2 separate regions of the Homo sapiens genome follow, and region 1 is linked to region 2. The links come from fine-mapping of genetic effects on plasma protein levels. A gene starts in region 2. The other region holds a variant in brackets. All regions are shown on one strand. Distances are between the middles of the regions.

Region 1 (15,737 bases), 13 kb after region 2:
GGCAGGACTGCAGCAGGGGGGTGGGCGCCTTCCATGGTGTCAGAAATGCCGCTTCCCCTCCCTCCCCTGGAGCCATCAGCCTGTGGAAGTTTCCTGGGCAGGCAGATGCGGGGTTCTGGCAGCCGGGGGACGTGCAGCTGTGGAAGCTAAGTGTCCTCTCGGCCAGTCCATCAGTGAATCCCCCCGGGAGTACCTGGGACAGAGCTGAGTGGGGGCATTTCTGAGTTTTCCAACCTAAAACTTGCAGAGCAGAATGCCAGTCCCTCCAGGACAGTTTCTGTGAAGCTCCCCCAGCCAGGCAGAGCAGGTTTTGCCACGGGGACTTTTTGCCACATCCCTTAGAGACCAATTACTTGGAGCTCAGCTCTGGGCTGTTTCCACCTGCCCTAAATATCTCGGCAGTGACAGTCATGGCTCTCCAGCAGCACAGGGGAGCACACTGCTCACACTCAGAGCCCTGTCGGGCGAAACGGTGACATCACAGGCCCATTCCCCTATGCCCGCCTCTCCCCAACGTCCACTCCCACCCTACAATTCTGCAACCAGATCCAGCCAATGAGCTGTGATCCACCCTACTCCTAGGCTGACAAAACCTTCACGTAATGGAAGAGCCTATCACACAAGAGGCTGAGGCTGAAAGAAGAGGGCACTGTCCATCTGAAAATTAGGGTTTTTAGAGCCTCTTAGAACCATCTTTCGATATCTGGAAGACTGAAGTGTAGCCCCAGGTCCTGTTTAGAACAAGGTTGACATTACTAAGCTCCCAGGGCGAAGGCCTTGCTCAGGATGGAGCGACAGCTCAGGAAGGACACCTCTCGCTGAGGGAGACCCTTCGAGGCCAGAGATGGCCAAGTCAGTCTGGTGGGCGATAAATGATAAGATTCAGAATAAACAAATGCACACCCAGGGGTTAACCCTGGAGGTTGGGGCACAGGGACTGGGGCTGGCTCATTTGCTGCTGGGGGAGGTGGAGAGACTGGGGAGTGGGCCACCAAAGCGTACAACACAGCCCACTCTCCCTAGTGGCAACCTCCCGCATGGCAACCTCCCGCATGGCAAGCCCACAACTCAGAAGTAACTGAGGATGTGTGTCACAGTGGCGCTGATAACAACGACAAGCCAGACACAAATTAAATGTCCAGCCTCAGGGGACAGCTGAGTAAGCGGCAGTGAAATGTACCGTGCAGATGCTGAAGACAGCAGCAGTGCATGTAAAAGCGTGCATGCTGGCCAAGGAGAGATGTGCAACCCAGGTGAGGTAAGAACGCAGGTCCCAGCACTGCGGATGGCATTTTCTTTTTTTTTGAAACAGGGTCTCACTCTGTCAGCCAGGCTGGGGTTCATGCAGTGGCACGATCATGGCTCACTGCAGCCTGATATTCTGAGCCTCAGCTTCCTGAGTGGCTGGGAATACAGGTGTGAACCACCACATCTGGCTAAGTTTTTTTAAACATTTTTTAGAGATGGGATCTTGCTATGTTGCCCAGGCTGGTCTTGAACCCCTGGCCTCAAGTGATCCTCCTGCCTCAACTTCCTAAAGTGCTGGGATCAGAGGTGTGAGCCACTGTGCCCAGCCCAGCATGATTTCTTTTTTTTTTTTTTTTGAGACGGAGTCTCACTCTGTCGCCCAGGCTGGAGTGCAGCCGCACGATCTCCGCTTCCGGGTTCACGCCATTCTCCTGCCTCAGTCTCCTGAGTAGCTGGGACTACAGGCGCCCGCCACCATGCCCGGCTAATTTTTTTGTATTTTTTTTTAGTAGAGACAGGGTTTCACCGTGTTAGCCAGGATGGTCTTGATCTCCTGACCTCCCGATCTGCCCACCTCGGCCTCCCAAAGTGCTGGGATGACAGGCGTGAGCCACCGCGCCCGGCCCAGCATGATTTTTAAAAAATAAAAGTATGAACACACAACACATTACACTGAAGAAGTTTATATGGACATAAAACAAATGCTAAAAGGCTGGAGAGGGGTAACTTTTGATGCTGACCTGTTTTCTGTGGCAAACACCCCTATTCGCATGACACTGAAAACTCTAGAAAGAGAGCAGAAGGCCCGCCTCCCGGCTGATGGGCTGCCTCAGGCTCCAAGTGTGCTGTGACGCGGGGGGCCCTGGCCACACCTCCCGGCTGCTGCCCTGAGCGGGCCCCCACTTCCTGGGATGGCCATGTCTGAGGAGTAGGGGTTACGGGCAGGGGCGATGGCACAGGAGGACCCGGAGGCTTGCTCCGGCGTGGGTCACAGTGAGGCCGCAGGGACCCAAATGACCACGGAGTGAGAAACCAAAAGGAGACTCTCGGTGACCAGCAGCCGCCTAACGAACGGCACCCTAAGCACCCTCAGCTGCGTGTCTCAAGGGGCAGAGCACGGGACAAACAGACTCTTCCACTGCCTTCTGTTTTCTAAAACTGATCTGATTTTTAAAAAACTAGCGACTTCGGCCAGGCGCCGTGGCTCACGCCTGCGATCCCAGCACTTTGGGAGGCCGAGGCAGGCGGATCACGAGGTCAAGAGATGGAGACCATCCTGGCCAACATGGTGAAACCCCGTCTCTACTAAAAATACAAAAATTAGCTGGACGCGGTGGTGCACACCTAGTTCTAGCTACTCGGGAGCCTGAGGCAGGAGAATGGCGTGAACCCGGGAGGCGGAGGTTGCAGTGAGCCGAGATCGCGCCACGGCACTCCAGCCTGGCGACAGAGCCAGACCGTGTCTCAAAAAACAAAACAAAAGAACGAGCGAGTGCTCTAGGGGATGAGTCAGGACGCGCGCTCGCCCTGCTCTAGGCCCCTCTAGGAGCCGCCCTGACAGTCAGTTTCCTCAGCGTCTACAGACGTGTCCACGGTGCCGCTCATGCCTCGCGGGCGGGGTCAAGGGGGTGGAGGCACTTGGCGCTGCTCCCACCCGCACGCCCTGAGCTCAGGCCCAGCACCCCCGCCTGCTCGTGAACTGGTACTGCGCCAGCTCTTGGGTAACGGTGGCAATATGCATCTGAGCACGTTTACACCTTTTTTTGATCAACTCGACCTACACGATAAATTCCCAGAAGTAGAACTGCTGGGCCTAAGAGTGGGTGTCCTTTTTGCTATCATTTTTTACTGAGCTGTAACTTACAAAGCACAAAATACAAAGATCCGAGGTTTGAACATTTTGATGAATTTTGACAAACACATGCCCCTTCCACCCATGTGGCTGAAGCTCCCAAGGTACAGCCAGCGAGAGTGAAGCCCTCCTCCTGCATCCCTGCACCCAGGCTCTGCCCAGGAGCAACTGACATGTAAAATGGGAGCTACTGCCAAGCCGCGCCCACTCACATCCACCCGCCCACCTGTGTGCCGACAAGCCAGCAGCACGTGTGCCTCCCGTACCACGCTCCACATAAACCCCCTCTCAGGGAAACAAATCCACACCTTTGTCCTGAAGCAGACATGGCACTTGGCCACAGCCTTCCTGGCACTAAGCCCGCTGACCCCAAATTCTCAGCTAAACAGGATGGCACATCCCGTCAGCCACACTGCAGTTACAAGGAGCCTACCCCACCCTCCACACACCAAGGGACCTGCACCTGGGTGACCCACTCATCCCACCAGCGGGTTGTGGCACCCGCTTCTGAGAGGGGCCGTCTCAGATCACAGCAACAGAATATGCAAACACGACCATGAAGTCTAGGGAGCCCGGCCTTCGGCGGCACGTGAAGGGCCTCGCGGGAAGAGCCGCGGGACTGCTGCTGTGTGACAGGTGACGGCAGCGGGGAGTGGCCGGTGGCCTTTGCTGGTGCCATCTGCAAGACCCAGGCCGCGGGGACCTTCCAGGCCTCTCCACTCTCTAACGGAGGGAGGCAGAGTGACAAATCCCGGCTGGGACAGACAGTCCTTGCTAGTCTGTGTCTCATCAGGGGCGGCGGGAGAAACCCTGCTGCAAACCTGGGCTCTGCACCTCGGCTGGATGCACCCGCACCTCACCGCTGCTCACCAGGCAGGAGAGACACAGGACAGGGCTGGGCTCCCGGGGTGGCCCAAATGCTCAGTCACGGCGGTCAGAGGCCCGCCTGGAGACTCAGGTGCTTCTCCCGGGGCAAGGAAGCACCTGGCACCCTCAACCCAGGACCAACATGTGCACCTGGGTCTGTAACCTGCTCCTCGCATGTGGAAAATGACAGCTCAGAATTTCCAGAGTTAACAAGACAAAACAAAGACATAACCAGTTGTGCCAGATGCTTTGGAAAGAACACGGAGATGATAACAGAGCTTGCTTTCCAGGACCTCAGCCTGGCAAATGCAGAGCTTATGAACTGCTTTTTTCTTTTTTAGTTCTCATGCAGCTGAACAGAAATCACGACTGTACTGGCCTCGTGTCCCACAGACCTCCCTGTGTGGGAGCTGGGATGCCTGCGGTGGAGCCCGTCGGGGGGGGTGGCTGGGATGCCCGCGGTGGAGCCCGTCGGCGGGGGGCTGGGATGCCCGCGGTGGAGCCCGTCGGCGGGGGGCTGGGATGCCCGCGGTGGAGCCCGTCGGCGGGGGGCTGGGATGCCCGCGGTGGAGCCCATCGGGGGGGGCTGGGATGCCCGCGGTGGAGCCCGTCGGGGGGGGGCTGGGATGCCCGCGGTGGAGCCCGTCGGGGGGGGCTGGGATGCCCGCAGTGGAGCCTGTCAGGTTCAGCCTCCCTGCTGCCTTTTCCAGTATCTCCCCAACAACCCTTTATTGTCATCCAACATAACTGCGCCCCATATTTTTTAATACCAAAATAGTATATGTTTATTGCAGAAAAATCACGAAATACTTAAAAGCAAAAGGAAGACAAGAAGGCATTTTTGTAGATGTAAATCACCCACACAGCTCCTCCTTTTTTTTTGAGATGGAGTTTCACTCGTCGCCCAGGTTGGCGTGCAATGGCACAATCTCGGCTCACTGCAACCTCCACCTCCTGGGTTCAAGCGATTCTCCTGCCTCAGCCTCCTAAGTAGCTGGGATTATAAGCGCCCGCCACCATGCTCGGCTAATTTTTGTATTTTTCGTAGAGATGGGGTTTCACCATGTTGGTCAGGTTGGTCTCCAACTCTTGACCTCGTGATCTGTCTGCCTTGGCCTCCCAAAGTGCTGGGATTACAGGCGTGAACCACCGCACCAGCCCCAACTCCTCTTTCAATAGCAGGCAGGGCCCATGGAATGCATCCTTGAGCCTGCCCGTCTTCCACCTGCCTGCTCCACGAATCACGGCCATGTTGCTCCAGTTCTCACAGGGATGGCACGGAGCCTGCAGGCCCTTCTGCTCCCATGAGGGAGCTGCCAACATCTCCGAGGGAACTCCCAGGACAGGGTGCGACCCAGCCCGCCCTGGCGTCCTTCCCACCCACCGCCAGCAGGTAGAAGACATCAGATCCAACACCGACTACACTTCAGTGTAGAAATGGAAGGAAATGAGCTTGCCATGGGACGAAGCTCCAGTGTCCATCCCCCTCGCACCTGGGCAGCTTCCTGCCCAGAGCGGACCCACCTGAGCCAGAAGCTGCATGGCACAGACCTGAACCTTCCCCC[A/C]AGAAGGATCCAGACCCAGACCCAGGCGGCCTCCCTGGGCCCACATGGGGGGCTCCAGGCTCACGAACTGGCCCCGGAGGGGCTCTCCTGGCTCTTCCAGAACTCTTAGGGGCATCACAGACAGGACAGACCCGCTCAAATCCCTCCCACTGAAGCAGCAACAACAGTGGCCATGACAGGTCTGTTTACATGGGCTTCACGTCCTTGCCCTCCTTCCGGCCTCACATTCGCCAGCAGATCCAGTCAGCACAAAAGCGTGCTTGGGGGCCCAGAGGAGACAGAAACGAGGGTGGCCAAGCGCACCCACCATACCTGCACACACACTGCACACATGGCCCCAGTGCCCCCGCCAGACCTGTGCACATGGCTGCACACACACATGGCCCTGAGTGCACCCACTACACCTGTGCACACACACAGCTCCAAGTACACCACACCTGCACACACACTGCACACATGGCCCCAGTGCCCCCGCCAGACCTGTGCACATGCCTGCACACACACATGGCCCTGAGTGCACCCACTACACCTGTGCACACACACAGCTCCAAGTACACCACACCTGAGCACACACTGCACACATGGCCCCAGTGCCCCCGCCAGACCTGTGCACATGCCTGCACACACACATGGCCGAGTGCACCCACTACACCTGTGCACACACACAGCTCCAAGTACACCACACCTGCACACACTGCACACATGGCCCCAGTGCGTCCGCCAGACCTGTGCAAATGCCTGCACACACATGGCCCTGAGTGCACCCACTACACCTGTGCACACACACAGCTCCAAGTACACACCTGAGCACACACTGCACACATGGCCCCAGTGCCCCCGCCAGACCTGTGCACATGCCTGCACATACACATGGCCGAGTGCACCCACTACACCTGTGCACACACACAGCTCCAAGTACACCACACCTGCACACACTGCACACATGGCCCCAGTGCGTCCGCCAGACCTGTGCACATGCCTGCACACACATGGCCCTGAGTGCACCCACTACACCTGTGCACACACACAGCTCCAAGTACACCACACCTGCGCACACACTGCACACATGGCCCCAGTGCCCCCGCCAGACCTGTGCACATGGCTGCACACACACATGGCCCTGAGTGCACCCACTACACCTGTGCACACACACAGCTCCAAGTACACCCACTGCGCCTGTACTCCCAGCTACTGGGGAGGCTGAGGCAGGAGAATCGCTTGAACCCGGGAGGGGGAGGCTGCAGTGAGCCGAGACTGTGCCACTGTACTCCAGCCTGGGTGACAGAGTGAGTCTCTGTCTCAAAACAAACAAATAAACAAACCAATGTGAGAATATCCTTATAAAGAAAGAAAGTCCTTGGGAGTTTGACAGGACAACAACTCACATTCAGAAAGAATCAGGAGAAACATCCTTTGAAAAGCAATGGAAAGAGCGGTGCTGGTCTTACCTGAGCGCCCCTGGAGTAGGACCTGAAGATGGTGCAGAACCGGCCCTGGCCCGACGTGTCCCTGAAACATACGGGGAGGGGAGGGGCCGGGACTGTGGTCCCTGTGAGAGGCTCACCTCCTTCCCTCCTCTGCCGACCCACCTGGATGTCCTGAGGGGAGCGGGGCGGCCAGGACAGGTGCCAATGAGGCTGTGCTAAGCGGCTTTGTCTGCACAGGTCACAGCAGCCTGGCGCCGTGCCGCTGAGCCAGGCAGGCAGCAGAAGGGGCCCCCGCCCACCTGGGGAGTGAGCAAGCTCCTCACATGAGCCTGGGAGCTCCAGGAGACTGTCCTGCCAGGCTGGGGAACCCCAACCCTGTGGACATTCACGTCTCATCAACGCTGACGTTCTGGGAAATGCTTTTTTTTTTTTCTTTTTTGAGACGGAGTCTCATTCTGTCACCCAGGCTGGAGTGCAGTGGTGCAATCTCAGCTCACTGCAACTTCTGCCTCCCGGGTTCAAGTGATTCTACTGCCTCAGCCTCCTGAGTGGCTGGGACTACAGGCGCCCGCCACCACACCTGGCTAATTTTTGTATTTTTAGTAGAGATGGCGTTTCACCATGTTGGCCAGGCTTGTCTTGGACTCCTGACCTCAGGTGATCCTCCTGCCTCGGCCTCCCAAAGTGCTGGGATGACAGGCGTGAGCCACCACACCCCGCTGGGAAATGCTTTTTAAGGTGAAGCCGACAGAAGGGGAGGGAAGGGGCTCACAGCCACCACGGAATCAGGTTTTCCGGGGCAGGAGGGGAGCCGCGATCTCTAGGGACACAGTGTCCCAGACTGTCTTTTTCCTGTTGGAGTAAAATCCATTCTATGTTTAAACAGGGGCTGTGTAAGTGGCTCTTCCAAGTGAAATGCAAACAGGACGCCTTCCTGTTTCTCTAAGGGTTCTGTTCTCCCTTCGGCATTTGTGTCCTCACCCAGGAACTGAAGTGCCGCAGCCCCAACTCACCAGAGCTCCAGCTTCACGCGCCGGCCGTCCAGCAGGATGGTGGTGGTCTTGTAGTCGATCCCTGCGAGGAAGCACAGGGCGCTGAGGGGACGCGCCACTCCTGGAGCGAGCGCCCGCGAGACCAGCCTCGGCCACTGGCCTCCCAGGGCCAAGACCCACGCGGAAGTGGAGAAGCAGCTCCCCCACACTCAGCCAGTGGGGCAGGGGGAAATCTCGGGGCTCTGGCCCAGCAACCCAGGCCTGCCCACTTCTGCACACGGGCCACGGGCAGGGCGGGGCAGGGCAGGGCAGGAGCGTGGTCCATACAGTGTCAGGCCATCGGGCCCCACAGCCTAGCAGGCCAGCCTCTCCATGGGCACGGCTTGCCTGGAATGGGGCCTCCGCCTGTGGCCCGCGCTGGGTGCAAGGCACAGGGCCTCTCCCTCAGAGGGCATTGGGCAAAGGCAGGGCGTGGACTCCAGCGTGCCTGGAGAAAGGGCAGTGCCTTTATTTCCACCCTGACCTACTTCGTATGCATTTTGAAGTTGAATTCTCCAAGGCGAATGTATTTCCAAGTCTCGGCTTACTGCAGCCCAGGAACTGCCAAGGTTGGTGTTAGGGAGGGCCAAACAAGTTTAAAAATGCTGCTTCTGGCCGGGCGCGGTGGCTCACGCCTGTAATCCCAGCACTTTGGGAGGCCGAGGCGGGCGGATCATGAGGTCGGGAGTTTGAGAGCAGCCTGACCAACACAGTGAAACCCCGTCTCTACTAAAAATACAAAAAATTAGCCAGGTGTGGTGGTGGGCACCTTTAATCCCAGCTACTCGGGAGGCTGAGGCAGGAGAATCACTTGAAGCTGGGAGGTGGAGGTTGCAGTGAGCCGAGATCATGTCACTGCACTCCTGCCTGGGTGACAGTACTCAATAAATAAATAAATAAATAAATAAATAAATAAAATGCTGCTTCTCCGGACTCTGGACTGACCTCAGACAGCCACCAGCCTGCCTGCCACATTGGTATTTTTTTTTTTTTTTGAGACAGAGTCTTGCTCAGTCACCCAGGCTGGAGTGCAGTGGTGCGATCTCTGCTCACTGCAAGCTCCGTCTCCCGGGTTCACGCCATTATCTAGCCTCAGCCTGCTGAGTAGCTGAACTACAGGCGCCCGCCACCATGCCCGGATAATTTTTTGTATTTTTAGTAGAGGTGGGGTTTCACCGTGTTAGCCAGGATGGTCTCGATCTCCTGACCTCATGATCCACCCGCCTCAGCCTCCCAAAGTGCTAGGATTACAGGCGTGAGCCACTGCACCCGGCCTTTTTTTCTTTTTTGAGATGGAGTCTCACTCTGTCGCCCAGGCTGCAGTGCAGTGCCACAATCTCGGGTCACTACAACCTCCACCTCCCGGGTTCAAGCGATTCTCCTGCCTCAGCCTCCCAAGTAGCTGGGATTACAGGTGCCCACCACCACAGCCGGCTAATTTTTATAATTTTAGTAGAGACGGGGTTTTGCCACGTTGGCTAAGCTGGTCACAAATTCCTGACCTCAGGTGATTCGCCCGCCTTGGCCTCCCAAAGTGCTGGGATTACAGGTGTGAGCCACCGTGCCCGGCCCACATCACATCATTACTTTTTATTTCCTTACAGTTTTATAGGAAAAGGTCAGTCCAAGAGAAACTGAAAGGAGCAGACAGTTCTGGACACTTAACGCAGGCACGACATCTTAAACAGGCTCTGGGCCCTCTGGAAACTTTCCAGAAGCTTCTACCTTTAGGGCTCAGCCCCTTCCCCCACCTTAGAAACACCATTCACGTTTTGTCTTTTTATGACACTTTCTCCAAGGGGCTTGGAAACGGGCACTTTTTAAACATAAGCGACGCCCTCCCACGGAGTGCACCTGCCCAGTGGGCTTGTGTGTGTGTCTGTGCACATCTGTCTCTCCGTGCGGGCCCAGCCCTGCAAGCCAGCCATGCGGTCTCTCTGCCTACGGTGCCCTTCTTCAGGCATCAGCGCTTCCACCCACACCGTCCTTCTGCCTGACCAACCCCTACATGTACATCAAAGGCTGTTCTCATGCATCGAAGGACACCATCAATGGACAGAAAAATGCAACCCAGAGATGGAGGGAAATGTCTGCAGATCACACGTCTCCTAGAGACTGATCTCTAGACTCTACAAATAACTCCAACTCAACAACAGAAAACCAAACGTCCCAATTTTAGGATGGACGGATGGTCTCCCTCGGGTCCTCGTTTCCAAGACAAGAAGGAACAATGGTTGTGCCAAAAGGGCCACGGCTGTGAGCAGCCCATGACTGCAGGAGCTGCACCCAATGTGTACCCAGGGACAACGCCATTAAGCAGTTCATCAGGATGCGGTAGAGTTAGGCAGTTCACTATCGGGACGAGGTAAAGTTTGGCAGTTCACCATCGGGATGCGGCTGAGTTAGCAGTTCACCACTGGGACGAGGTAGAGTTTGGCAGTTCACCGTCGGGACGAGGTAGAGTTTGGCAGTTCACCGTCGGGATGCGGCAGAGTTAGCAGTTCACCATCAGGATGTGGTAGAGTTAGGCAGTTCACCATTGGGACGAGGTAGAGTTAGGCAGTTCACCATCGGGACGAGGTAAAGTTTGGCAGTTCACCATCGGGATACGGCAGAGTTAGCAGTTCACCATCGGGATGTGGTAGAGTTAGGCAGTTCACCATCGGGATGCGGTAGAGTTAGGCAGTTCACCATCGGGACGAGGTTTAGGCAGTTCACCATCGGGACGAGGTAAAGTTTGGCAGTTCACCATCGGGATGCGGCAGAGTTAGCAGTTCACCATCGGGATGTGGTAGAGTTAGGCAGTTCACCATCGGGATGCGGTAGAGTTAGGCAGTTCACCATCGGGACGAGGTTTAGGCAGTTCACCATCGGGACGAGGTAAAGTTTGGCAGTTCACCATCGGGATGCGGCAGAGTTAGCAGTTCACCATCGGGATGTGGCAGAGTTAGCAGTTCACCATCGGGATGTGGTAGAGTTAGGCAGTTCACCATCGGGACGAGGTAGAGTTAGGCAGTTCACCATCGGGATGCGGCAGAGTTAGCAGTTCACCATAGGGATGCGGTAGAGTTCGGCAGTTCACCATCGGGATGCGGTAGTTAGCAGTTCACCATCGGGATGCGGTAGAGTTTGGCAGTTCACCATCGGGATGCGGTAGAGTTCGGCAGTTCACCATCGGGATACGGCAGAGTTAGCAGTTCACCATCGGGACGCGGTAGAGTTAGGCAGTTCACCATCTGGATGCAGTAGAGGCCGCAGCCTTGCAGACATTTTGGAAGCATCTGCGCCGACTGTGTGCTTCCCGAGCTGCGTGTGAAGCTGCGTCACTGCCCCAGTGGTGCCCTTCACAGCAAGCCAGTCAGGAATCCTGCTCCTCAAGTCCAGGGCTATGCACGTCACCCAAGTCTAGACCTGGGTGCTGCCCACGACCCCCACCAAGGCCCCAAGACCATGCATTCCACCTGGGTCTAGACCTGGGTGTTGCCCACGACTCCCACTAAGACCCACATAAGGAGCTGAGTCCTTAAGGACTAAAGACAAACTATCCTCTGGGGAAAAAAATACGGAAATTATACTTTAAAAAAAGGGCAAAGGACTTGAATAGACATTTCCCCAAAGAAGAAAAACCGACGACCAAGAAGCAGTGAAAAGGCATTCCACATCATCGTTCAGCAGAGAAACCCATCCAAGCCACCACCGCACCACGATCCAGCCTCGCAGAAAAGGGCAACTGGCAGCAAGTGCCAGCCGGCGTGCAGAAGCCAGGCCCTCCATCCGCTGAGTGTGCTGCGTGCTGCTGCACTGTGCTCTTGATTCTACCGGCCAGGGCGGCAGTCCTGCTCTTGATTCTACAGGCGAGGGCGGCAGTCCCTGCTCTTCAATCTAAAGACGAGGGCAGCTGTCCCCTGCTCTTGATTCTACAGGCGAGGGCGGCTGTCCCTGCTCTTGATTCTACAAGCAAGGGCAGCTGTCCCTGCTCTTGATGCTACAGGCCAGGGCGGCTGTCCCTGCTCTTGATGCTACAGGCCAGGGCGGCTGTCCCTGCTGATTCTACAGGTGAGGGCGGCTGTCCCTGCTCTTGATTCTACAGGCCAGGGCGGCTGTCCCTGCTCTTGATTCTACAGGCCAGGGCGGCTGTCCCTTGCTCTTGATTCTACAGGCCAGGGCGGCTGTCCCTTGCTCTTGATGCTACAGGCCAGGGCGGCTGTCCCTGCTCTTGATTCTACAGGCAAAGGCGGCTGTCCCTTGCTCTTGATTCTACAGGCCAGGGCGGCTGTCCCTGCTCTTGATTCTACAGGCCAGGGCGGCTGTCCCGTGCTCTTGATTCTACAGGCCAGGGCGGCTGTCCCGTGCTCTTGATTCTACAGGCCAGGGCGGCTGTCCCTGCTCTTGATTCTACAGGCGAAGGCGGCTGTCCCTTGCTCTTGATTCTACAGGCCAGGGCGGCTGTCCCTGCTCTTGATTCTACAGGCCAGGGCGGCTGTCCCTGCTCTTGATTCTACAGGCCAGGGCGGCTGTCCCTGCTCTTGATTCTACAGGCCAGGGCGGCTGTCCCTTGCTCTTGATGCTACAGGCCAGGGCAGCTGTCCCTGCTCTTGATTCTACAGGCAAAGGCGGCTGTCCCTTGCTCTTGATTCTACAGGCCAGGGCGGCTGTCCCTGCTCTTGATTCTACAGGCCAGGGCGGCTGTCCCGTGCTCTTGATTCTACAGGCCAGGGCGGCTGTCCCGTGCTCTTGATTCTACAGGCCAGGGCGGCTGTCCCGTGCTCTTGATTCTACAGGCCAGGGCGGCTGTCCCTGCTCTTGATTCTACAGGCGAAGGCGGCTGTCCCTTGCTCTTGATTCTACAGGCCAGGGCGGCTGTCCCTGCTCTTGAATCTACAGGCCAGGGCGGCTGTCCCTGCTCTTGATTCTACAGGCCAGGGCGGCTGTCCCTGCTCTTGATTCTACAGGCCAGGGCGGCTGTCCCTGCTCTTGATTCTACAGGCCAGGGCGGCTGTCCCTGCTCTTGATTCTACAGGCCAGGGCGGCTGTCCCTGCTCTTGATTCTACAGGCCAGGGCGGCTGTCCCTGCTCTTGATTCTACAGGCCAGGGCGGCTGTCCCTGCTCTTGATTCTACAGGCCAGGGCGGCTGTCCCTGCTCTTGATTCTACAGGCCAGGGCGGCTGTCCCTTGCTCTTGATGCTACAGGCCAGGGCGGCTGTCCCTGCTCTTGATTCTACAGGCAAAGGCGGCTGTCCCTTGCTCTTGATTCTACAGGCCAGGGCGGCTGTCCCTTGCTCTTGATTCTACAGGCCAGGGCGGCTGTCCCTGCTCTTGATTCTACAGGCCAGGGCGGCTGTCCCGTGCTCTTGATTCTACAGGCCAGGGCGGCTGTCCCGTGCTCTTGATTCTACAGGCCAGGGCGGCTGTCCCTGCTCTTGATTCTACAGGCGAAGGCGGCTGTCCCTTGCTCTTGATTCTACAGGCCAGGGCGGCTGTCCCTGCTCTTGAATCTACAGGCCAGGGCGGCTGTCCCTGCTCTTGATTCTACAGGCCAGGGCGGCTGTCCCTGCTCTTGATTCTACAGGCCAGGGCGGCTGTCTCTGCTCTTGATTCTACAGGCCAGGGCGGCTGTCCCTGCTCTTGATTCTACAGGCCAGGGCGGCTGTCCCGTGCACACTCACAAGTGAAACAACACTCTTCAGGGAGGCACCGCGCTCAGGCCGTCAACACCCTTCCCGCACCTCCCTCCTCCGGTGGTTCTGTCAAGCAGGGACACAGGGACGGAGGGGCCTTGGTCATTTTGGTCCTGGCTGTTGAAGCCCCCATGAGGCTGACCTGAGAGGCCAAAGTTGGACACCACGATTGCCACAAAGGCCATAGCTGCTTCTCCTTGACGGTCACCTCGACGTGCCAATGTGGCCAAGCAGGCAGGCGCCAGCAACACCCACAAGACAGATGCTGATGGCCCGGGGACTCCCCTAGGCCACCCCTAGATGGCGCCATGGCCCAGGGCCACCAGGAGCCATGGCTGCTGCAAAAGGAACGGGGATGCCGGGAAAAGCCTGGGGACCACGTCACCCACCCACAGAGCCGGGGCCTCTAGAGCACCTTGCTCTTGAATCAGAGGCTGCTCTGGGATGCTCCTCCCGCTGGACGTCTGCGTCCCACCCATCCTGCAGGCTCCGCACCCGGTTGCCCACGGTGCGCGTCAGAACAGGATTCTCAGCAACAGTGAAGAGGAAAAGTGTAAGAAGACTATGAAACAACGTCCCCATGGATACCATTTAGACACAAACAGCGGCCTGTTCTCTAAGCACAGTCAGCCGAGTGTCTTGTTCCCAGCAAGCCACAGCCACTGACCACATGGAGCCCTCTGACCACACAGGGCCCCAGGATGTCACTCTGGAAAAGGTCTGGACTCTCAGAGGGACAGGTGTCAGGATCCTGGGGAGGGGGCCCTTGGCCTGGAAGGTCTCAATTATCCAGGCAGGGTCAGGGCAAGCAGGTGACGGGGTGGGGCAGGGCGGGGTAGAGGGAGGAGCTCCTGGAGGCACAGAGCAGTGACCCAGGAGAGGCCTGGAGCCCGCGCTGGGGGACGGCGCAGGGGCAGGGGCAGTGGGCTCCGGCTGCAGAGCTCAACACTACCCCATAAGGGGGTCCCTAGGCATCAGCTGTGACATATTCTCTTGGTGTGCTGTTCATTTTTACCTCCTGTTGAAATGTCTTTTCAAAAATAAGCTAAGCTAATACCCGGCTCAGTGAAAAGGCAAGGGCGCCAGTGAAGGTCAGCTGCTCCGTGCAGGCCCACTGAGGCCTCACGCAGCACCAGCAACTCCTGCCACCCTTCCCCCTGCTCTCCTCCTCATCTGCTGGGTGCCACAGGCCTTGCTCACCACCTCAGGTTTACTGTTCCCAATAACCCTCTTGTTCATCTAGCCCCAGCCAGGCGCTGCCTCTCAGCCGACCTGAACACAACCCCATGAGACACACGGCACTGTCCTGGTCAGAGCCGCTCCACAGGACAGGCGCTCTGACCTCAGGGGACAGAGGCAGGGAGGTCAGAACACCTGTCCTGCCACCAGAGCAAAGCCACCGGCGCCTCGGCTGCTGGTTCTGTCTACCGCACAGGGTGCCGCTTCCCCACCAGCTACAGGAGACCAAGTCTCAGCAAGCGGACTCCCAGCTGGGCTGGTATGAGGCTACATCTGGCCCTGGCCTGGCACCCGAGCCACCAGGCTGGTGCCGTTCACATCCCCACCCTCCCGTGGGACCCATTCTGTTTCCTAAAACCTTTTAAGGCATGGTCTTTGACCACATTGCTCTGGGTGGTCTTTTTCGTACTCTGTGGCCCTTGCAGTCTGGAGACACATCCTGACGTGCCTCAGCTCCCCCCTCCAGGCACACAGCTCCCGCCCTCCATCCTGAGCCGCGCCAGCCAGGGTGACCTCTGCAGGGACTGCCCAGTTGTTTTTTAATCTCTTTTTGTTCTATTTTCTGGGAGATGTCCTCAACTTTCTTTTCTAGCCCTTCTATGGCTTTTTTAAAATGTGCTGCTTATTTATAATTTCTAAAAGCTCCTTCCGGTGCTCTGAGCGTTCCCCTCTGGCAGCGTCTGGCTCTTCATTCGTGGATGCGGTATCTCTGATGACGCCAATGGTAAGATGTCCTTCCCTGAGCTCTTTTCCTGCCTGTCTGGGTCTTTCCTCACATTCTGGTGACCCTCAAGGACAGACCCTAGCCAGGAAGCTGGTGACTCTGGCT
Region 2 (9,938 bases):
CGGAGGTCTGTGGGGAGCCCAGCATGGGTGTCTGCCGTGGCACCACTCACCCTGCATGGGGGCAGCTGGGATGCCAGATTTGCCCCCATCACAGTCGGGGTGAGGGTCTCCAGCCTCCCCCATCACAGTCGGGGTGAGGGTCTCCAGCCTCCCCCATCACAGTCGGGGTGAGGGTCTCCAGCCTCCCCCATCACAGTCGGGGTGAGGGTCTCCAGCCTCAGGGCCTGGCTTCTGTTGGGGGCAGCACCTCACTGCCGTCCTGTTCCTACTCACCAGGGGCTCTTCAGAGCAGCAGGACACCTGCTCAAACCCAGGGCCCTGCTCATCACCTACGGGGTGAGTGGGCCTGTCCACGGCGGGCCTCCCGCTCCCAGTCCTAGCTGCTGTCTCCTGCCCTGCTGAGAGTCCTCCCTCCTGGGCTCCCTGCCCCCCGCCCAGCCACCAGCACGGCCTCCCCTCCACTTCCAGTCTGTACCCCTCCCTGGGTCATCTGCCAGCCTCCCTACCCCCTTGCCCACCAGGCTGGCCTTGGCTGACTCCCTCTTGGGGACAGGGAGGGGGTGCCCTTTCATTCTCCAAACCCCAGCCTGCAAGTCTGTCCCAGGCTCTCTGGGAAATACCCCGACCTTGGTCCAGTGGGCTGTGTCCCCATGCCCACAGCCCTATGCCATCAATGGGAAGATCTCCCCCCAGAGCAACGTGGACTTTGACCTGATGCTCAGATGCAGGTCAGAGCTAGAGGCGGGGGGTCTGGCTCAGGTGGCAGGTGGCTTGGGTGGCACCCCCCAGGCCATGACTCCATCTCCCCACCCTCTGCAGGAACCCAGAATGGGGGCTTCGGGACACAGCCCTCCTGGAGGACCTGGGAAAGGCCAGTGGCCTGCTCCTGGAGAGGATGGTAGGTGGGGGAGCGGGGGCCCAGGCAACCTCTCTAGGGGTTGAGGGCCGTCCTCCAGCAAAGTGTTTCTCCAGGTGGACATGCCAGCCAACAACAAATGCCTGATCTTCCGGAAAAACTAAGCCCCTCCTTCACCCCCGCACACCTGCATCCCTGCCGGAGGCTCTGTGAGGCACGAACCCTGCCTCCCTAGGCCGGACCTTGTGGACGACAGCCCCACCCAGTCTGTGCTCTCAGCCGCTGGCCGAAGGGCCCAGCCTGCTCAGAATAAAGCATGTCCTGCTGCCGGCTTGCTGGTGTCTGCCCCACCTCCTCCTAGGAGCACCTTGTGAGGTTGGGTGGGAGACGGGGTCTCCTGTGGGGTCAAGGGCTTGGGACGTCCTGATCCTTGCTGCTGGAGCTCGGGCAGTGGGATTGGGGCCGAGACAGCTGCTGAGGCAGGATGGAGCTGGTTGGGGATGCAGGGGCGGACAGGCACTCCCTGGTGACCTTGTACCAAAGCCCAAGCCCCAGTGGGTGTCAAGGCCCCAGCGGAAACTGGCTGGGCATGGGGCACCTGGAAGGATGAGGGTCGCCCGACCAGCAGCAGCAAGCCAGGAGGTCTGAGGCACAGGGAGTGCGTTTATTCACCAGGACGGGGTGGCGCAGGCCCCTGCGGGGGCTAGTCCTGGAAGCGGTTGAGCAGCTCGCAGGCCTGCTTCTCCAGCAGCTCCAAGATCTTCTTGACGCGCTTCTCGCTGGCGGCGCGGACGTAGCTGCCGGCGTCCAGCACGGCCACGCCATCGCGCACCTCACCCATGATGACCAGCGGCCCGTCGCCCGCCGTCATGTTGGGGCAGGGGCAGGCCCAGTCCATGCCACTCAGCGTCACCTCCAGGTACTTGGTGCCCAAGAACTTGAGGCCCATCTTGTCATCCTTGAGCACGTCCTCGAGCGCCACGCGGGCGATGCCGCCGGCGGCCTCGGGCTCCTCCAGCACCTCCGTGAGCCGCCCCACGATGGCGAAGTCGCTGCGGCACAGGCTCAGCGCCAGCTTGCTCCGGAGGCGGCAGGCGCGGCAGGGCGGTGTGCGCGGCACGGGGCAGGCATCCTCGCAGCTCTCGCGGCTGTGGAAGTTGTTGCCGTTGCCCTCGCAGCCACCGTACACGAAGGGATGGCACTGCTGCAGCAGCGGGCTGTAGGCCCAGCGCGGCTCCCAGCCCCGGCAGGGGCCCTGCACGGCAGGCAGCACGCAGGCGTCGCCGGGGCCGCGGGCACAGGCCTGCTGGCATGCCTCGTAGGTCTCAAAGCCGCGGGCCGCCCCATCACAGCCACGGGCCGGGAAGGTCATGCAGCCGCCCCGCTGCGGGTCGTAGTGCCAGAGGACAAGGTGTGGGGAAGTGGGGCCCGTGCAGGCCTGCACATCCGGCAGGCACTCGGCCGGGGCTGGGATGCTGGGGGCTGCGTCCCTGGCCGGCTCTCGCTGGACCACAGAGAGTGGGAAGTCAGCCCGCAGCAGCCCAGCAGCGTTGCGCGCGGTGCAGGTGTACAGGCCGGCGTCTTCGGGCCGCGCGTTGTAGAGCACCAGCTGCCCGATGCTGGTGACCACCACGTTGCCATACATCTGATCAGGGCGCATGATCAGGTTCTCTCGCTGGTGACTCTGCTTCTCCCAGGTCACAGCAGGCGGCGGGCGGCCGCTGACGTCGCAGTGGAGGCTGGCCGTACCCCCAACCTGCACCGCCTGTGGGGAGGGGCTGCTGTACAGGGCAGGAGGCACGGGCGCGGCCCCAGGTGTGGGGCGGGCAGTGGTCTCCGGCGGCCCCGGGCTGCTGGGCGGCCAGCTGAGCACGTGCTTGCAGGGCACGATGTGGAGGTGCAGGCCCCGCAGGCAGGCCTCGGCGTCCATATAGCAGCGGTTGTAGTAGGTGAGGCCGTCCGAGGCGCAGGTGAAGCTGGGCTCCTTCTCACAGCGGTCGCGGCAGCGGCACACGGGCTGCCCGTCCCAGATGTCGCAGTCCGAGCCCTGCTGTGGGCACACAAAGCCCTCGCAGGAGGCCGCTGTCGTCGGCGCAGCTGGGCTGCCGGGGAAGCGTGCTGCCACGCAGCTGTGCAGTCCACACACGTTGATGCAGCACTTCTCAGCAGCCGCACAGTCCTGGGGATGGGGGACACTTAGGTGGGAGCCCCAATGCCCCCCGCCCCGGGGCTCTGGCCTGGCCCCTGCAAGGGGAGGCCCAGGTGGGGTAGCAGGGAGCCCCCCGCTCTGTGGCTGCCTCCCCGGGGACTCAGTGTCCTTTCCATCCTGTGTGAGGAGCCACCTCGCCAGAGGTGCCACCTGGCTTACCTTCCAGAATCCTCACACCCACAAGCAAGTTCCGTTATTCTTTACGTTGTACAGACGAGGAAACTGAGGCCCAAGGAGGGCGTACAGTGCTCAGGACCACCCAGCAGGTGGTGCGGGCCAGGACAAAGGCTGGACATCGGCTGCAGCACCCCCACCACCATCTGCACTGGTCCCGGATGGAAGGAGGGTGGGAGGACAGGGAGGACAGTGGATGGAAGGAGAGGGTGGGAGGAGAGGATGGAAGGAGAGGGTGGGAGGAGAGGATGGAAGGAGAGGCAGTGACGGGGTGGGAGAAGAGGATGGAAGAAGTGGATGGGAGGAGTGGATGGGAGGAGTGGATGGGAGGAGAGGGTGGGAGGAGAGGCAGTGAAGGGGTGGGAGAAGTGGATGGGAGGAGAGGATGGAAGGAGAGGCAATGACGGGGTGAGAGAAGAGGATGGAAAAAGTGGATGGGAGGAGTGGATAGGAGAGGATGGAAGGAGAGGCAGTGATGGGGTGGGAGAAGAGGATGGAAGAAGTGGATGGGAGGAGTGGATAGGAGAGGATGGAAGGAGAGGCAGTGACGGGGTGGGAGAAGAGGATGGAAGAAGTGGATGGGAGGAGTGGATGGGAGGAGAGGGTGGGAGGAGAGGATGGAAGGAGAGGCAGTGAAGGGGTGGGAGAAGTGGATGGGAGGAGAGGGTGGGAGGAGAGGGTGGGAGGAGAGGCAGTGACGGGGTGGGGGTGGTCGCCGAGGATGATGGTGCCCCAGGGTGGAGGCACATGGGGAGCATGAAAGCTGGAGTGGGGAGGGCTCTTATTCTTAAGACAAATGAGGGCAACGATGGGGGTGTCTCTGGGCCCCTTAAGGGGCCCAGACCCAGACCCCCCAGAAGTCTGGGGAGCCCAGGCAGAAGGTGGCACCTCCAGCAGGGTCTTGCCCAGGCTGGCTGCTCTGAGCCCCAGGACCCCGGCCCGACCACACTCACCTGGTCCCTGCTACACTCGCGCTCACAGGTGCTCTGGGCGTCCACCCACAGGTTGGGGCTGAGCTGGTTGGGGCACACGCCCGGGTGGCTCCCCAGCCCTGGCAGCAAGCCAGCCCCCGAGGTCAGCCGGAGGAGGAGCAGGAGCGGCAGGAGTGGACGTAGGGCGGGCATGAGGGCCGCCGAGCCAGGGGGCCGGGGGGTGTGGCCACCAGCCCCTCCTCGGGCTCCACAGAGCCCAGCTTCCTGCAGGCATCCACCCTCCGGGCCTGTGGTCGGTGCCCCCACCAGGACCCCGGGGCTCCCTTTTGCCCCTGAGGCTGAAGCCTGCAGCAGATGCTTGTCCTGACACCCCTGCTGGGTGGGTAACGGGGTCTCCAAGTTCTCAGAGGCCGTCTGTGTGACGCTGGTTCCTCTCCAGCTTCAGCCTGGCCCCTCTGTCTGAACCGTGCGGGGGCTCCCAGGCCCTGGTCAGCACAGGGCAGAGGGGAGGAGGTTGGGGAGGGGCCAGAGGCCCATGAGCACAGAGCCACTGGCCATGAGGGTCACCGGGGCGGGGAAGGGCTGGCTCTGGCTGGAGAGGGGGAGGGGAGGGGACCCTGTAACCTGAACCCCTTCGTCCACCCCTGGGCTGAGATCAATCTCCTTGACGACCCTCAGTAGGGTGGGGGCAGGGCCAGCAGATCCCAGCTTTTGTCCCTGGCGCCCTCTGGACCCCAGGCTCCTATGCCATGGGGGTGGCAGGCACGGGCCCTCCCCGCAGAGCGTGGCTGACCACAGCCTGGGTCCCCCGGGCCAGGTCCAGGCTGGCAACGGTCACGTGCGGCCGAGGGCTTCACTCCGCTCCGAGGTTCCTTCCCCCCTCCATGGCTGTTTCAGGGGCACAGGGGTCTGCAGGACGCCCAGCACAGCCCGGCCTCCTCTGCTCTGCTGCCCCTGTTGGAGTGGGGCCCAACCCGGCAGGACTGCATTCCCAGAGACCCCATCCCTGAAACCAGGCAGCGGGCTTGGGGCTCAGGCCTGTCCCCAAGGCGGGGCAGGTGCAGCAGGAAGAGGCCTGTGGCCACCACAAGCATAAGAACAGCCCGAAACGCTGATGCCGGAGCCTCGGCCCACGCACCGTGTAGCCCTGGACGTGGCTCCGCGTGGGATGGCACCGCCCGAGGGAAGGCCAAGTGCAAGGGCGTCTGCAGCTGAAAAGAGCAAGTGTCCCAGGGCACCAGAGCCTTGCCCTGCCCCAGCCCCCCGTCGGCGGGGCACACATCCCCAGGCTGGCTCCTCTTCGTTGGGGAGGGCAGGGGGCTGGCCTGCCTGGTGCAGCAGGACAAAAGGCTGCCTGGAATCTACCCTTCCAAACCCTCTGTGGCTCCAGATGTCTGGGGCCTCAGGGAGTGGTTCTCTTGAGACCGGATGGGAGTGTCCCCCTGACCCTGTGTCTGACCTCTGACCCAGGAGGCAGGGTAACAGGAGCCTGGTCTGGTCAGAATGAGACCCGGAGACGGCTCCAGGCGCCAGTCCCTGCTCTACAAGGAGACTGGGGGTGGGCCCTGATAGCGTGGGGGTGGGGGTAGCTAGGCCAGACCCAGCAGCAGGCGGCTGGGCTGGAGCTGCCAGGGAGGGGCTTAAGGCCCGGACATGCCCACGAAACAGCACAGGGAGGCACCTGAGCCAGAGGCTGTGGTCTGGTCCCTGTACCAACTGGAGTGCCCCGTTCCAGCTCAGCTGTGACCTCCGGGGCGTCCACACCCCCCTGGGCCGGGCATAGCAGACACCAGATTGGCCAGCGTGCAGGCGGCTCTGCTGAGCGGGCCGACTGACTGGAGGACCTGGCCCTCTGGAGTCCTGCTGCTGTTGGGGACAGTCCGCCCCAGGCCATCTGCTGCCGGGGACTGTGAGCGAGGGCTCAGCACAGCCCAGCTGGGATTCCATCCACCGGGAAGAGGAGAATGGCCGTGACCAGGCCCAGCTGCTCCAGCCCAGCTCCAGCCCTCACTTTGAGGCGAACCCAGCCAACCGCGGCAGGTCAGCCCGGTCAGCGCAGGGAACAGCAGGCAAAACAAAGGCCAGAGGTCAGTTTGCCGGGTATGAAGCAGCACTGGCCCCTGGCACGGGGCACCGCCACTGCCAGACCCACCCCACCAGACACAGCAAAACGTGGGGACCACAGCTGAATTACATTTACTGTACAAAGAACGGTTCGGAGAGAACCAGGAATGGCGGAGTGTCTAACAGCAGCGCGGGTAGTGTTGATGCCGTGAATGCAGGACCATCCAGGTCCTCAAAGTCTGTGAGGTTTGTTCATAATCCCAAACAAGGGCCCTGCTGGCAGCAACAGGACAGGTGGGGCCAGGACAGGGAAGCTGGAGCAGGAGGCCAGTGTCTTTGGGGGCTGTGGCAGGGCCGCCTGCCTGGGGTTCCCTTACTCATCTGGTAGTTCATGCAGGCCACGGCCCTCATCTCCCAGGAACGGGCCATGGGGCGAGTCCACTGGTGCCCAGTAACACCCTCCGTGGGACCACCTTGGGAAGCATGTGCCGCGGAGTCCACCACGGGGGGTCCTGGGTCCCGGGAGGGCTCCTTCTGCGTGCTGGCCATGTCGTGCCGCACGGCCTGAGGACAGGAGGTAGAGGTGAGCACCAGTGCTGTGGGCAGGCCCAGGCGATGGTGACCGTGCAGAGGGGCTGCTGGGGCAGGCATGGGCAGAAGCACTGGGTGGAGGAGCGGCCAATGGCTTCAGGAGAGAGGTGGCCGGCCCTGCGTGCCTGGGGCTCAGCATGAGCGCCGGGCTGGTGGGCCTTTGAGGAGGGGCCTAGCCTCCCGAGGCCCCCAGGTGGACGTGGACGTGGACGAGGTGGTTCCAGGCACGTCCCTAAGAAGGTCAGGATGGTTCTGATGCCGTGCAACCTCACAGGAGAGCTGCAGCTGTGGGGACCCCAGGGCCAGCGACAGAAGCTGCCGAGAACAGGAGGCTGCACGCAGGTGCCCGGGGTCTGCACCGCTGCCCATCAAGTATTCCTAAGTCTACAGATAGCTCTGCACTCTCCAGGGTGGGCGAGATGATCTGAGTTTTGAGTGGTCAATGTCCCCGAAGGTGTCACATCACAGCAGGAAGGTTCTCATCCCCACGTGGGGAGGGATTTGGGGAGCAACAAAAATGTGGGCTGCCAGGTGCACCTCCTTTCTCCCCTCTCCTGAGTGCTGCTTGGGCTCTGACCACAGGACCACACCCTCCATCCCGTGGGAGCCAGGGCCCCGGTCACCCAAGCTTCCAGAGGGAGCACCGGCCCTGTCTGCTCCCCCGGCCTCTGGGCAGCCCCGCCACTCGCAGCGCATGAATTCACAGGATGCCTTGCCATCGCGGCCGCGAGTCCCCTCTCGAGGAGTCCCAAGTGCGTCCCCGCAGCTGGCGTGGCCATGAAGTCACCAGTGCACCACCACCGGGCCACACCCAGGCTTCCCTGAAGGCCCCTTAAAAATGTACAAAAAAGTGAAGTGTTCTCTATATAAATAAGAAAGGCCAACCAGGCTCCCCGCCGGTCAAGCCCAGGCAGCTGGGGAGGCCCGGCTTGTTTCCGACCAAGATTCCCGGAAGCACCAGCAGCCCAGCCGCGCCCCCTCCTCCCGCCTGCCGCGCTTGGTCCGTGCATGCTCCTCCTCGCACCCGGCTCAGGTGTGAGGAAAGCCCGGCGCTTCTGAGGCAGCTGTGTGGACAGTCTCCACGTAGGCGGCACTGGCCTGGCGTCCAGCCAGGAGTGTCCAGCTCGAGCCCTCCTGGCATCTGCACAGGCGGCCCCGCCCATCCCCGCTAGGAGATCTTGCAGTTACTCCGCGAGCAGTTCTGGGGGGGGCTCTGGGGTGGACGGATGGACTTGGACCTCTTGAGGCTGTTGCCCTTGCTGCCGCCGCCCCCGGCCCCGCTGGCCAGGGAGTAGGAACGGCCGTGCATCATGACCGCGTTCATGCCGTTGGCCATCGAGAAGGACTTGAGGTGGCTCTTGATGGTGACGGGCAGTGGAAGCTTGTCGATGAGGTGCACGGGGGTGCAGGAGACGATGGCCCGGCAGCAGAGGTCCTGCAGGCTGAACACTGTGGGGCAGAGGGGGTGTCAGACCATGGGGCTGTGGGGGAGGAGGCCCTGTGCAGGGAGACCTGAGGTGCCCAAGAGAAGCCTGGCGGGGTCTCCACACTCCTAGAGGTGTTCCCAGGCTGGGCTCCTGGAGGACCTGGACGCCCAAACTTCTCTGCCCAGCACAGATGTGTCCACTGGCACCCCATCCCCTGCCTTGCTCCCTAAAGCCAGGCACGCTGGGCGGTGCTGCTGCGGGGCTTCCAGAGGGCACTCTGCCCAGTTCCTGGCCTGGATGATGCAGCTCCCAGTGTGAGGGCTGCGTGATCTGGCCCTTCAAGCGTCCTGACTCATCCCCTAGAGCGGGGGAGCGCGCGTCCTGACTCATTCCCTAGAGCACTCGCTCATTCTTTTGTTTTGTTTTTTGAGACGGGTCTCGCTCTGTCGCCAGGCTGGAGTGCCGTGGCACGATCTCCGCTCACTGCAACCTCCGCCTCCTGGGTTCAAGCGATTCTCCTGCCTCAGCCTCCCGAATAGCTGGGACTACAGGTGTGCGTCACCACGCCCGGTTAATTTTTGTATTTTTAGTAGAGACGGGGTTTCACCGTGTTGGCCAGGCTGGTCTCGAAGTCCTGACCTCAGGTGATCCACCTGCTGTGGCCTCCCAAAGTGCTGGGATTACAGGAGTGAGCCACCGTGCCAGGCCCGTGCTTCCTCTTAAGAAGGACAGTGACACCGTCAGCCACCCTCTCTCTGTTCAGCAGTGAACCCTGCTGGGAGGCACCACAAAATCAACAGTACCACCTCCCTGAGGGGGGCTTCACGGGAGCCTCTGATCAAGGATGTGGCTACCCAGGAAGAGCAGATGACACAACACAAAGCTGCAGGCACGGCTCCTGTGCTCCCCTGACAGCAGGACCAGCCCCGGAACCAGGAAGGAGCGAGCACACACTGCCCACACCAGCAATGCCAGGGACCCACAGGCATGGCAGAGTGCAGCGGCCACGGCGGCACCCTGAGGGGGGGTCATCAGCTGCTCCTGTGCCCCCCAGTGCTGCCGCCTCTCCCCCGAGGCTGCTCTTACCAAGTCACTGACCTGCCGCCGGCCGAGCCCCTACTGCGCGTTGCCAAGGGACCTGCCTGAACCTCCCTCACTGGCCCCTGGCCCCCCTCAGCCTCCATGTGATCAGGGCAGCCCAGGTTCGGGGACCTCAGGGCTGGCCGGCGCCCGCCCACCCACCTCGGTTGGGCCTCCAGATCTTCTCCATGCCGTGCCGCATGAGCACGATGCGGGATAGCTCCGTGAAGGACTCGATGACGTTGAAGTTGCACAGGGGGCTGACCTCAAAGAAGGTCATGCAGTTCTTCTCTGCGTACGCGCGGGCCTGCTCCGTCGGGACCTGCCGCTTGAAGGCCAGGTGCAGCCGGTTTCCAACCAAGATCCGGGGGACTCCGGGTGCATGCTGGGGGCACAGAACTCAGCAGACGCACAAACGCAGGGTGCCACCCACCCCTCAGCCGCAGCAGGGCCCGCCCTCATTGTCTGGACTATGATGGGGTGAGGGCCGTGGGAGGTCAAGGTGGGCGGAGGTCAAGGTGGGCAGACCCCAGGGCTCAGGCCCTACAGTGCAGCCCTTCCGGGTGGCCCCGTAGCTCCTGGTCTTGCTGGGCTCCACGCCCGAC

Evidence for each region. PIP is the posterior inclusion probability: the model's chance that the variant is causal. Sun 2018 read protein levels with aptamers (SomaScan).
Region 1: its variant is fine-mapped to the plasma level of the WFIKKN1 protein (Sun 2018, PIP 0.95).

Annotation. Positions count from the first base shown.
Region 1 is chr16:609,504-625,240 of GRCh38, reverse strand. It overlaps RAB40C (RAB40C, member RAS oncogene family), which reads right to left. Exons shown (of 6, transcript NM_021168.5): 2 at 7,973-8,033; 3 at 6,981-7,041. LOC124903618 (a long non-coding RNA gene) reads left to right here and starts at 8,977. Exons shown (of 2, transcript XR_007064934.1): 1 at 8,977-14,387; 2 at 15,551-15,737. RefSeq lists enhancers at 2,787-3,540, 13,845-13,974. The variant A/C (reference allele first, on the strand shown) is at 5,533.
Region 2 is chr16:625,679-635,616 of GRCh38, reverse strand. WFIKKN1 (WAP, follistatin/kazal, immunoglobulin, kunitz and netrin domain containing 1) reads right to left here and starts at 4,632. Exons shown (of 2, transcript NM_053284.3): 1 at 4,193-4,632; 2 at 1,500-3,035. The coding sequence starts at 4,363. The coding sequence ends at 1,560. It overlaps RAB40C (RAB40C, member RAS oncogene family), which reads right to left. Exons shown (of 6, transcript NM_021168.5): 5 at 9,496-9,718; 6 at 6,349-8,275. The coding sequence ends at 7,995. It overlaps METTL26 (methyltransferase like 26), which reads left to right. Exons shown (of 6, transcript NM_032366.5): 2 at 1-5; 3 at 277-336; 4 at 661-728; 5 at 820-898; 6 at 973-1,187. The coding sequence ends at 1,020. RefSeq lists enhancers at 1-372, 4,539-5,273, 5,454-5,748, 5,274-6,007, 7,477-8,210 and a silencer at 7,840-8,090.